Linked DNA regions of Homo sapiens. The protein of the gene in region 2 binds, or shares a complex with, the protein of the main gene of each other region. Each region holds a gene or a part of one and is shown on either strand. Other genes may lie near its edges. A codon is read from its position in the direction of its gene.

Region 1 (3,061 bases), on a different chromosome or scaffold from region 2:
TTATTGGCCTTTCTCAGGGCTTTTGACTCACAGGAACTCAGGAGCTGGAGAGGCAGCAGTTTTGGTGAAGGAGGTTGAGGGTGGAGGTGAGATGAGGGTAGACTGACCAGGCTACTTAGACTTCTCCACCATCTCCCTCATCCCACATTATTTTCTGCCCTGGGTCCATGACCCTCAACCCTCCATCCTCAAGGAAACTTGATCCTGCCTTTGCCTTGCTTTGAACCCTGGGCAAGGGGCTCCCCATGGGTCATGGCTGTGACTGCAAACTGTGTTTGAAGAACAACCAAGTTTGGGAGGTGCTGTGTGCTCTGCGACCTTCTTTGAGATCCACACTTCTCAGCAGCTTATTAATAACTCAGGAAACATCTACAATTTGAAAAGAAAGAAAAAGCAGCAGAAGCAAGCAATCAAAGACACCTGTTGGACTCTGTGTAACCTGGCATTCTCCAACTCATTGCACCACTGAGCTTTTATTCTTCCTAGATGATATTATTAACATTATGCAGATACAAGTGTTCCCCTGAAGGCAGTAGGAAGTTTAGGAAATTGTTCTATAAAGGTGGGACTTGGGAGCAGTTTCAGACTTTCCATATTCTTCAGCAGTCCCTCCCCAAGGCCTCCAAATAAACCTGCATTCTAAGAAAAGACAGGCTTGCTCTGCAGCTTCAAAGTAAATGCCCAAACTCAAAACACCCCCACCCCATGAGACTGCTGCCCCCTCACTTTCAAGGTCCTGAGTGATCTGACCCCTCCTGAGCAGCTTCACACTGTACTTCCCCACCCCTCTGGAGTCCCAGCAGAAGTGAGGGGTGACCGCCCCTCGCACAGCCACCACCTTGGCATCCTCTGCATTACCCTCTCCCACTTCAGTCCTTTGTGTGGCCAAGTCCTGCTCCTCCAGCAGATTCGCCCCGTCCTCAGTCCCCAGGAGGGAATGGGAGCAGGGTAGGGTGAGGAGCAGCCATCAGGCCATTGAAAAACACAAACCACACAACCTTCCCCAAGCACAGTTAATAGCCTCATCTTTTTTCCCCCTGTATAGTGTACATAGAGCAACCAGCTCTGCCCTGTTTTCTGGGACTTTCCTGGTTTTAGAACGGAAAATCTCCAAACAAGGTTCAGTCCTGGGGTATGATTCTAACGTGTCTGCAGAGTGCTTAGAGTGGTTAGTAGCAGAACTGTGAGGAAGAAAAAGAAAAGGGAGGGAAGGAAGGAGAGGAGGGAAGAGGAAAGGAGAATCATTTTAGGAAGGCACAGGTTACAGTGCCACCACACAACAGGTTGGTGAAGCATGGGGAAGGAATGAACTGGCCTGTTTGGTGTTGGTACAGTTGTCTCCAGTGTACACGGTTCAACTTATGAGTTCTTGAGTTTGGAATGGCGTGAATGCAAAAGCATTCAGTAGAAACGGTACTTTGAATTTTGAACTTTGACCATTTCCCAGGCTGGCAATATATAGTATGATACACTATATTATAAAATAGTCTCTGGGTCAGATGATTTTGCATGACTTTAGGTTAATGTTAAGTGTTCTGAGCCTGCTTAAGGTAGGCTAGGCCAAGCTTCGATGCTCAGTAGGTTTGGAGTATTAAATGCATTTTTCATTTACAGTATTTTTAACTTATTATGGGCTTACAGGAACCTGGCTCCCATCATAAATCAAGGAGCATCTCTTTTGGTTGTGGCATTGTATCTGTCCTCACACAACCCCTGTGGGTCTTGACCACCATCCCAGGCCCCAGAGCCCCTGCCTCAGACTGACCCTTGCACCTCTTCCCACCTGCAGGTGTGATTGCTGCTGTGGCCATCGTCCTAGTCTCCCTCCTCTTCGTCATGCTGCGCTACATGTACCGGCACAAGGGCACGTACCACACCAATGAGGCCAAGGGCACGGAGTTTGCTGAGAGTGCAGATGCAGCCCTGCAGGGAGACCCTGCCCTCCAAGATGCTGGTGATAGCAGCAGAAAGGAGTACTTTATTTGAGGGACAACAGACTTCACTTCCCTGAATGCCTCCCCCATCTCCATCAGGAAAAATACACCCCATCGCCCAGCACCCCTGCTGATACCACCAGACAGAGAGAGAGAGCACTTGATTCTTCCCGAGATAGCCACCTGGAAACACTAGGTGCCTGCCCAGGGAGGAACGGAGGAGGACTCGCGCTACAAGAGGCCACTCCCAGGGACCCAGGGAGGCGATGGCCACCCCAGAGGCCACCTTTTGCTCCACGGAGGTGGGAGAAAATCTGGGCACATGGGGCCCCCTGGGCAGTGCAGGACAACATCAGCTCACTGGCAGGAAAGTCCTTGTTGAGGGTGAGGGGGTGCTGGGGTACCCGGGGGCTGGGGAAGCAAGGAAATAAGTCATCTGTATGCTGACTGGGGATAATGGCATCAAATGTCAGTCCTTGACATTTGGGGGGAACAGCAGGTGCCAGAGCTAAAAGGTACCTTTGTCTGCCATTGATCCAGCTCAGAACGATTGGAAATAAATTTGAAATGTAACCGAGCATTCCGAGTCCAACAGTATTACTGTAGTTATCTGGGGAAAGATAAACGCCACCCAGGGCTTGCTTTTCACCTGTGCAATATTATATTCTCTGACGGGGCCAGGACAGTTCATTTCTGGCTCTTGTGGGGGCCAGTTCCCAGAGAGCACAGCCAGTACAGGCGGCTCCCAAGCCTGCCAAGGGAGGAAGGACAAGTGACCAGCTTTCCTTTCCCTACAGGGGCACCAGCTGCAGGAAACAAAAGGAAGGGTGAAATGTCCCTCTAGAAATAGCCGTTCCCAGTGGCCAGGGCACTAGCTGAAGTGTTGATTTTCCAAGGTGCAGTATTAGAACAAATGGACCTGATCCAAAAATATGAGTGAGTCTTGTCCTTCCAATCACAGTGACCGTGGCACCCAGGGGTGGAAGCAGAGGCTGCAGAGCTCCGCTCGATGGCTTTGGGTCCCAGCTCCCCTTTCCTGGTCCCAGGACCTTGAACAACTTGTTTGACCCCTCTGGCCCCCGTGTTCTCCTCCCTCACGTACAAATGATGCTGATAATGACACCTCT
Region 2 (7,051 bases):
TCCCTGAAAATTCTCTTGGGCCTATCCCACATCAAAAAAAAATCACCTAACAGATAAGTCAGGCTCCAGGCAAATTTCCACCAAGAAAACCTGTTTCTTGGTTCTTAGGCCATCACATGCAGCATTACTCCCCGCTGGTGGTCACTGAGTGTGACGCAGTGTTGTTTGTTGCCTACTCCAGGTCTGCTGCTGGAACTAAGAGGCAAATAAGGAAGGACGCAGACATGGAAACAAATACAGTAGTGTGGTGGTGATGTGATAGAAGCAGCTGTGGAGCGCTGTGGAGCAAGGAGGGGCACCCAGCACAGTGGGCTCTTGCATTTCGCAGTACCTAGGCTGTAACTGGCAGGTGGTACCTGGGCAGAGGGAACAGCCTGTGCACGGACACCAAGGTGCATGCCGAGTGCGGCACCTTCTGCGATGGCAGGAGGTTGAGTCTACGGTGTGCATGATCACTGACTCTGCTTCTGACTAGTTATAATTTCACCTGAGAAAGAACTTTCGCTGCAGACTTGGATCTTGCTGTTTCCTTTGCAAAGGAAATGGTTCCGTTCAAGGCTTTTCTTTTCACAGAACTGATACTAGAAAGTAAAGTGTAATTTTCAAATTATTTAGTCCTCTGCCCAATTTCCCCAGTATGTGGTGTGGTCTCAGCCAGTCTGCCTTTCCTGTCCTTCACTTCCAGGAACTTCATGACTTTTTTCTGTTTTTTGTTTTTTTTTTTTTTTTTTTTTTTTTTTTGAGACAGAGTTTTGCTCTGTCACCCAGGCTGGAGTGTAGGGGTGTGGTCTTGGCTCACTGCAACCTCTGCCTCCTAGGTTCAAGCGATTCTCCTGCCTCAGTCTCCCAGCTAGCTGGGATTACAGGCGCCTGCCAACACGCCTGGCTAATTTTTGTATTTTTGATAGAGACAGGTTTTCGCCATGTTGGCCGGGCTGGTCTCGAACTCCTGATCTCAGGTGATCCGCCTGCCTCGGCCTCCCAAAGTGCTGGGATTACAGGTATGATCCAGCGCCCTGGGCCTTTCATGACTTTTTTTTCAAAACTGGAAGGGCTTAGGATACCTTGCAGATAAGAATCTGCTTTTATTGTGGCTAAGCAGATTTGAGTTTCATCATGAACGTTCTATTCTTTTCTAACTCATTTGTTCTCCCTACACAAGACACTGAAGTATAATAGAATACCAGGAACAGATATTTCAGGTTAAGATCAATTCCCTTAAATTGGAGTTTGCCAACCTGGGCACTGTTAACACTTTGGGTCTGATAATTCTGTTGTAAAAAGTAATACCTCGCCGCTAAGTTGTGACAATCAATAATGTCCTGAGACAGTGTCAAGAGGGGAGACAAAATTAGTTGATGCAGAGATTTTTCTCCTAAGCAGTGAGTTGTCTCTAACCTTTCAGTGTTGCTAAAAAAGAACTCTGGGTGTGGAGTGTAGAAAGGCAAGACTAAATAGCCATATTTCCAAAATTGGCTGGGGTAGGGGAAGTGACGCCAGAGGAGGGGAAGAGGAACTTTCGTAACATAGTCTTGCTTTTCTTTTTTTCTTTCATATGAAGAAATATACATGAACAAAACACATAATAGGTTTTCCCTCAAAAGTTATCTTCCTTGCGAGGCCTTTTCTGCTTTATTTTCCTCCTTAGCACCTGCCATCATCTCTGAATATTCTGCACAGTGCAGAGGCAGCCTTTATGTGAGGGACACAGCACCTGCATTCTCTCCATGTACCTGCACAAACTCCAAAGTCCATGCTTATAGTTTAACTTCTGGAGTCTGAGGCTTACTCATCCTTTAAGCTCAGACAGGTTTCTGAACCATTTCATGTCTTCAAATATTGACCACAGAATGGGGATGAGCATTTGATTTAACGAGTGTTGTTATTTGCACACAGCTCCGGCACTGGTTTAATGGCAGTGTGGGGACTCAGTGCCAGGTATCTGCAGCCCTGTGTTTCTGCTGTGTGGAACGGTGCTACTTGAGTTTCCTGTTGTTTTTTTTCCCCAGTGGAAGCAAAAGCCTTTGCATGTGTACTGAGAGCATGGGGTAGAAAAAGCTCGTTGGGAAGGGATCTCTAGAGACTTGGCCTTTAGGTTGATGTATGTGTTCCCAGATGGATTTAGTACCTGAGAAGCAAAGCACCTGGTTAATGTATGATTTTAAGACAGTACCTGCCAGAATATCCTGGCTCTTAGGCCTTCCTCTCTCCCTAGTTCCTGTCATTTGTGGTTAAACAGTGCTAATCTCTTTCTAATACTTCAGAATACCCTTGGCTTTCTCAGTTTCTCTTGTTTTTTCCCAAAGTGGAATAGGATACTGCCCATGCAAAGAGAGGGAATTTGCGAGCACCTGGGGCCAGGGCTTGCTGGGCAGCTGTCTGGCATCATCTCGCCTTCTTGGACTTGGCTTTCTAAGTCTCCACGTGGGAGCAGTTGGCAAAGAGCCTAACAGTAGGCTGAGCAAATATTTGTTCTTTCCTATGTTCACTGTCACTTAATCTAATTGTTTGGATTAGAAAGCCAACTTCAGTTGCCCCTGCTCTATTCACCCCCGCCACCGCCCGCCCCCCGCCAAGTTTGTTTTTCATCTCTTTTTAAATTCCAGCTTCCTTTGAGCAACTGCCTCTGCCCTTTGAACCCTGCTGCAGATGTTTCCTCTGAAGGGGCTTTCAGAGCGGCAGGCATTGCCACTCCAGCACTTTGTCTGATTAAAGGCCAGAGGCTGCAGAACAAAGGCCAGACATGGAGTCCTGGGTGAGTGTTTATTCCCTGGCTCCTCCTGAATCCCAGCAGTCATCCTTAACAGAGCCACTTCCGCCCTGCCTTGTCACTGGTCAGGGGCAGGCCTGCCATAGCTCTGTGGCCTCCTATATCCACTACAGATGATGGTGGCTGCTTTGAGAGGATGATGTGGAGGTTGTGAACTGAACTCTGAGAAATAGAATCTAGTACCTTTGACCTTTATTATTTGTTCAGCATTACTCATGTCACTGACAGTATATGTCTGCATATCTTTTCTCCTATGATGTGTCAGTAATGAGGAGACATGGGGACTAGTTGAAGGAGTTCTGTAAGATGAGGTCACAGAGAGCTGACCCTCCCTTTCTGAGAGTCTCATGAAGACAGGGTGGCTCAGGGACAAGTTCACGGTGGAGAAAATTGTGCTTTGCTTTTGGAAAACTTACTGTTGCAAGTGTGTACTTTAGTTACCACGTTGGAAGTTTCCGTTTTTCTTAGTCATCATTTGCAACTTCTGGGTAAGCGTGATAGTGACTCTTAGTCATCGTAAAGAGGAACGTCTTGTTGGATAAGCACATCTGAAAGACCAACCTTTGGGATGGCAACTCTTGAACTTTTCCAGCTGGAATGGTTCTGCCTCTAGTAAGCTTTGCTGAGTCTTTAATTTAAAGGCTGACATGTAAAAAGCAATCACTGTAATAAAGCTGGATAAGAAGAATATGACATAGCTAGGCATGGTGGCTCACACCTGTAATCCCAGCACTTTGGGAGGCCGAGGCGGGCGGATCACCTGAGGTTGGGAGTTCAAGACCAGCCTGGCCAATGCGGAGAAACCCCATCTCTACAAAAAATACAAAATTAGCCGGGCGTGGTGGTGCATGCCTGTAATCTCAGCTACTCGGGAGGCTGAGGCAGGAGAATCGCTTGAATCCAGGAGGCGGAAGTTGTGGTGAGCCGAGATCGTGCCATTGCACTCCAGCCTGGGCAATAAGAGTGAAAGTCTGTCTCAAAAAAATAAAATAAATAAAATAAAATAAAATTCCTCTAGCCACCACCACAATGAAGATAGAGAACTGTTCCATCCCCACAAAGGCCTCTCTCCTGCTGTCGCTTTATAGTCACACTTGTCTTCCTCCCTACCCCATCCCCGCAACTCCTTGCAGTCACTACTCTGTTCAATGTCTCTATGATTTTGTCATTTTAGGAATGTTATATAAGTGGAATCATATAGTATGTGATGTTTTGAAATAGATTAGCTTTCTTTCAGTCAGGATAATGCCTTTGAGCTGGATCCCAAGTTGTTTTAGTATCAATAGTGTTTTTTGTTTTAATTGCTGAGAAGTGTTCCATGGTATGGATGTACCACGCTTTAACTGTTCACCTGTATTTTGGTTCTTTATAGATTTTGGCTGTTATAAATAAAGCTGTTATGAGCATTCATGTACAGGCTTTTGAGTGAACATAAATTTCCATTTCTCTAGGTGAATATCCAGGAGTGTCATCCCTGGGTTTTATGGTAGTTGTGTGTTTGGTTTTTTAATAAAGTGTTCAACTATTTTCTATGGAAGCCATATCACTTACATTCCCACCAGCAATGTATGAGATGCCCAATTTTCCCTCAGCTTCACCAGTTATGAGTATTGTCACTATTTTTTTATTTCAGCTATTCTGATAGATGTGTAGTGATATATCATTGTTGTTTTAATTTGCATTTCTCCCTGATGGCTAATGATGTTGAATATCTTTTTATATCCTCATTTGCCATCTTTATATATCCTCTTTGGTGAAATATCTGTTCATGTTTTTTGCCCATTTTCTAATTAGATTGTTCGTTTTTACTGTTGAGTATTGAGCACTCTCTTTTTATATTCTATATACCAGTCTTTTATTGGATATGTGGTTTGTAAATGTTTCTCCCGGTCTGTAGCTTGTATTTTCACAATCTTCATGTGGGCTTTCACAGAACAAGAGTTTTTCATTTTGATGAGGTCCAATTTACCAATTTTTCCTTTAATGGATTCTGCTTTTGATGTCATGTATAGGAACTTTTTGCCTAGCTCTAGATCCTGACAAGTTTCTTCTATTTTTTTCAAATATATTTTCTAGTTTTGCACTTTACATGTAAGTCCATATCCATTTTAGAAGGTAAGGTTCAGGTCAGCATTTCCCTTTTTGGTGATGAGTTTCCAATTGCTGCAGCACCATTGAGTTGCTTTTGCATCTTTGTTAAAAATCAACTGGGCATATCTCTGTGGGTCTGTTTCTGGGTTCCCTATCCTGTTCCCTTGATCTGCATGTCTATACCACATAGTCTTTACTGAGACTATACTACAGTAAGTTTTGAAACTGTGCAGACTGAGTCTTCCTACTCTCTTGTTTTTCAAAATTATTTTAGCTTTTCATGGGTCTGTACCTTTCCATCATGTATACGTGCTTTTAGTGTAACCTACATGGACCAAGTGAGTGAAAGCACTCGTGTATGAGAAAAATAACACCCCAGATATAGGGTGATCGGTAGCCAACACTGGCTTCTGGCTGAGGCATCAGTAAGGAATGTGAGAGCTGGGGCCACCTGGAGAGCGATGCCAGATCTTCTGATACTTTAAAAAGAAGTTGGAGTCCCCTGATTTTTACTAAACAAAACAGAGACATGTGGTCGAAATAAAACAGTTTGCAACTTCTGCTTTGGAGATTTTTTCTTTTCTTTTTCCAGAGATAGAGTCTCGCTCTGTTGCCCAGGCTAGAGTACAGTGGTGCTATCATAGCTCACTGCAGCCTTGACCTCCTGGGCTCAAATGATCCTCCTGCCTCAGCCTCACGAGTAGCTAGGACTACAGGCACATGCCACCACACCTGGCTTGGAACTTTATGTAATGCATTCACTCCTTCATTTATTGTCCAACCAATGCAGATCCTACTTCTTGACTCCCCACTTTGTAACAGAACAAGATTACAGGCCTCTTCCTTTCGATTTTTCTCCCCTTTTTACCTGCCAACTTCCTATCATGGACATGTGTACCTTAATATTGTCATGGTGCTGATATTTACAGTCTGTTATTTGTTTCATGATTTGTTTCTAAGTGAGTTCTAAAAAGTAAAAATCAATAAGTGGTTTTTAGATTATTATAACTGGTTGCCAATCCAACATCCCACTTCTCACTTACATATCCCTGATCTTGTTTGGGATGGCAAGATGCTCAACTAAACTAATCTTCCCAGCCTCTTTGGCTGGTGCCTCCTGTATGCACATTCTAGGCTCTAGCTGTCTCAACTCTCCTTGGTCATTCCTCCATCTGCTTTCTGTCTTCTGGAAAGCTATTGAAATCTTGGCCGGGCATGGTGGCTCATGCCTGTAATCCCAGCAGATTTGGGAGGCCGAGGCAGGTGGATCACTTGCGGTCAGGAGTTCCAGACCAGTCTGGCCAACATGGTAAAACCCCGTCTCTACTAAAAATACAAAAATTAGCCAGGTGTGGTGGCGCTTGCCTGTAATCCCAGCTACTCGGGAGGCTGAGGCAGGAGAATCGCTTGAACCCAGGAGGCGGAGGTTGCAGTGAGCCGAGATCACGCCACTGCACTCTAGACTGGGTGACAGAGTGAGACTCTTTCTCAAAAAAAGAAAAAAGAAAAGAAAAGAAAAGGAAAAAAAACAAAGAGAAAGAAATCCTTCAACCCTGATGACTTTTTGTGGGTTTCTATTTCCCTCCTCCCGTTTACTCTTACTTAAACAGGGTCAAGGTTGAGGCAGGACAAGATCCACACAAGTACTTGAACCTGAGTCCCAATCACTTTGGAAAATTCTTTTACTAATTTATTTTATTAAAGTAACACAAGCACATAATACATAATTTAAAAGGTATAACTTGATACACAGTGAAAACAATTTCCTTCTCACCCCATCTTATAGCCACCCAGTTCCTCTCCCTAGAAGCAACCACTGTTTCTTATGTCTCCTTCCAGACATAGTTTATGTATTTTCATTTATTTTATTTTTTGAGACAGGGTCTCACTCTGTCACCCAGGCTAGAGTGCAGTGGTGTAATCACAACTCACTGCAGCCTTGACCTCCCGGGCTCAAGCAATCCTTCTGCCTCAGCTTCCCGAGTAGCTAGGATTACAGGTGCACGCCACCATGCCCGGCTAATTTTTTTATTTTTTGTAGAGACGAGGTTTTACTATGTTGCCTAGGCTGGTCTCGAACCCCTGACCTCAGGTGATCCTCCCACCTCAGCCTCCCAAAGTGCTGGGATTACAGGTGTGAGCCACTGAACCTGGCCAGTTTATGGATTTTTAAGCAAATATGAATATAAT

What was found. Proteins that work in one complex are often made in the same cells at the same time.
Region 1: the proteins of MPP1 (region 2) and GYPC are in contact, whole or in part, in an NMR structure (PDB 2EJY), measured with the Homo sapiens proteins. Residues at the interface, in NP_002427.1 of Homo sapiens: Pro81, Met82, Gly83, Ile84, Leu86, Lys87, Leu88, Leu100, Val130, Gln134; in NP_002092.1 of Homo sapiens: Arg123 (codon at 1,966), Lys124 (codon at 1,969), Glu125 (codon at 1,972), Tyr126 (codon at 1,975), Ile128 (codon at 1,981).

The regions. Positions count from the first base shown.
Region 1 is NC_000002.12:126,694,157-126,697,217, forward strand, and holds the end of GYPC (glycophorin-C), read left to right. Parts: intron 1-1,789; coding exon 1,790-1,986; 3' UTR 1,987-2,511; downstream 2,512-3,061. UniProt on the Homo sapiens protein: This protein is a minor sialoglycoprotein in human erythrocyte membranes. The blood group Gerbich antigens and receptors for Plasmodium falciparum merozoites are most likely located within the extracellular domain.
Region 2 is NC_000023.11:154,795,449-154,802,499, reverse strand, and holds part of MPP1 (55 kDa erythrocyte membrane protein), read left to right. Parts: intron 1-2,606; exon of another isoform or gene 2,607-2,743; coding exon of another isoform or gene 2,744-2,755; intron 2,756-7,051. UniProt on the Homo sapiens protein: Essential regulator of neutrophil polarity. Regulates neutrophil polarization by regulating AKT1 phosphorylation through a mechanism that is independent of PIK3CG activity.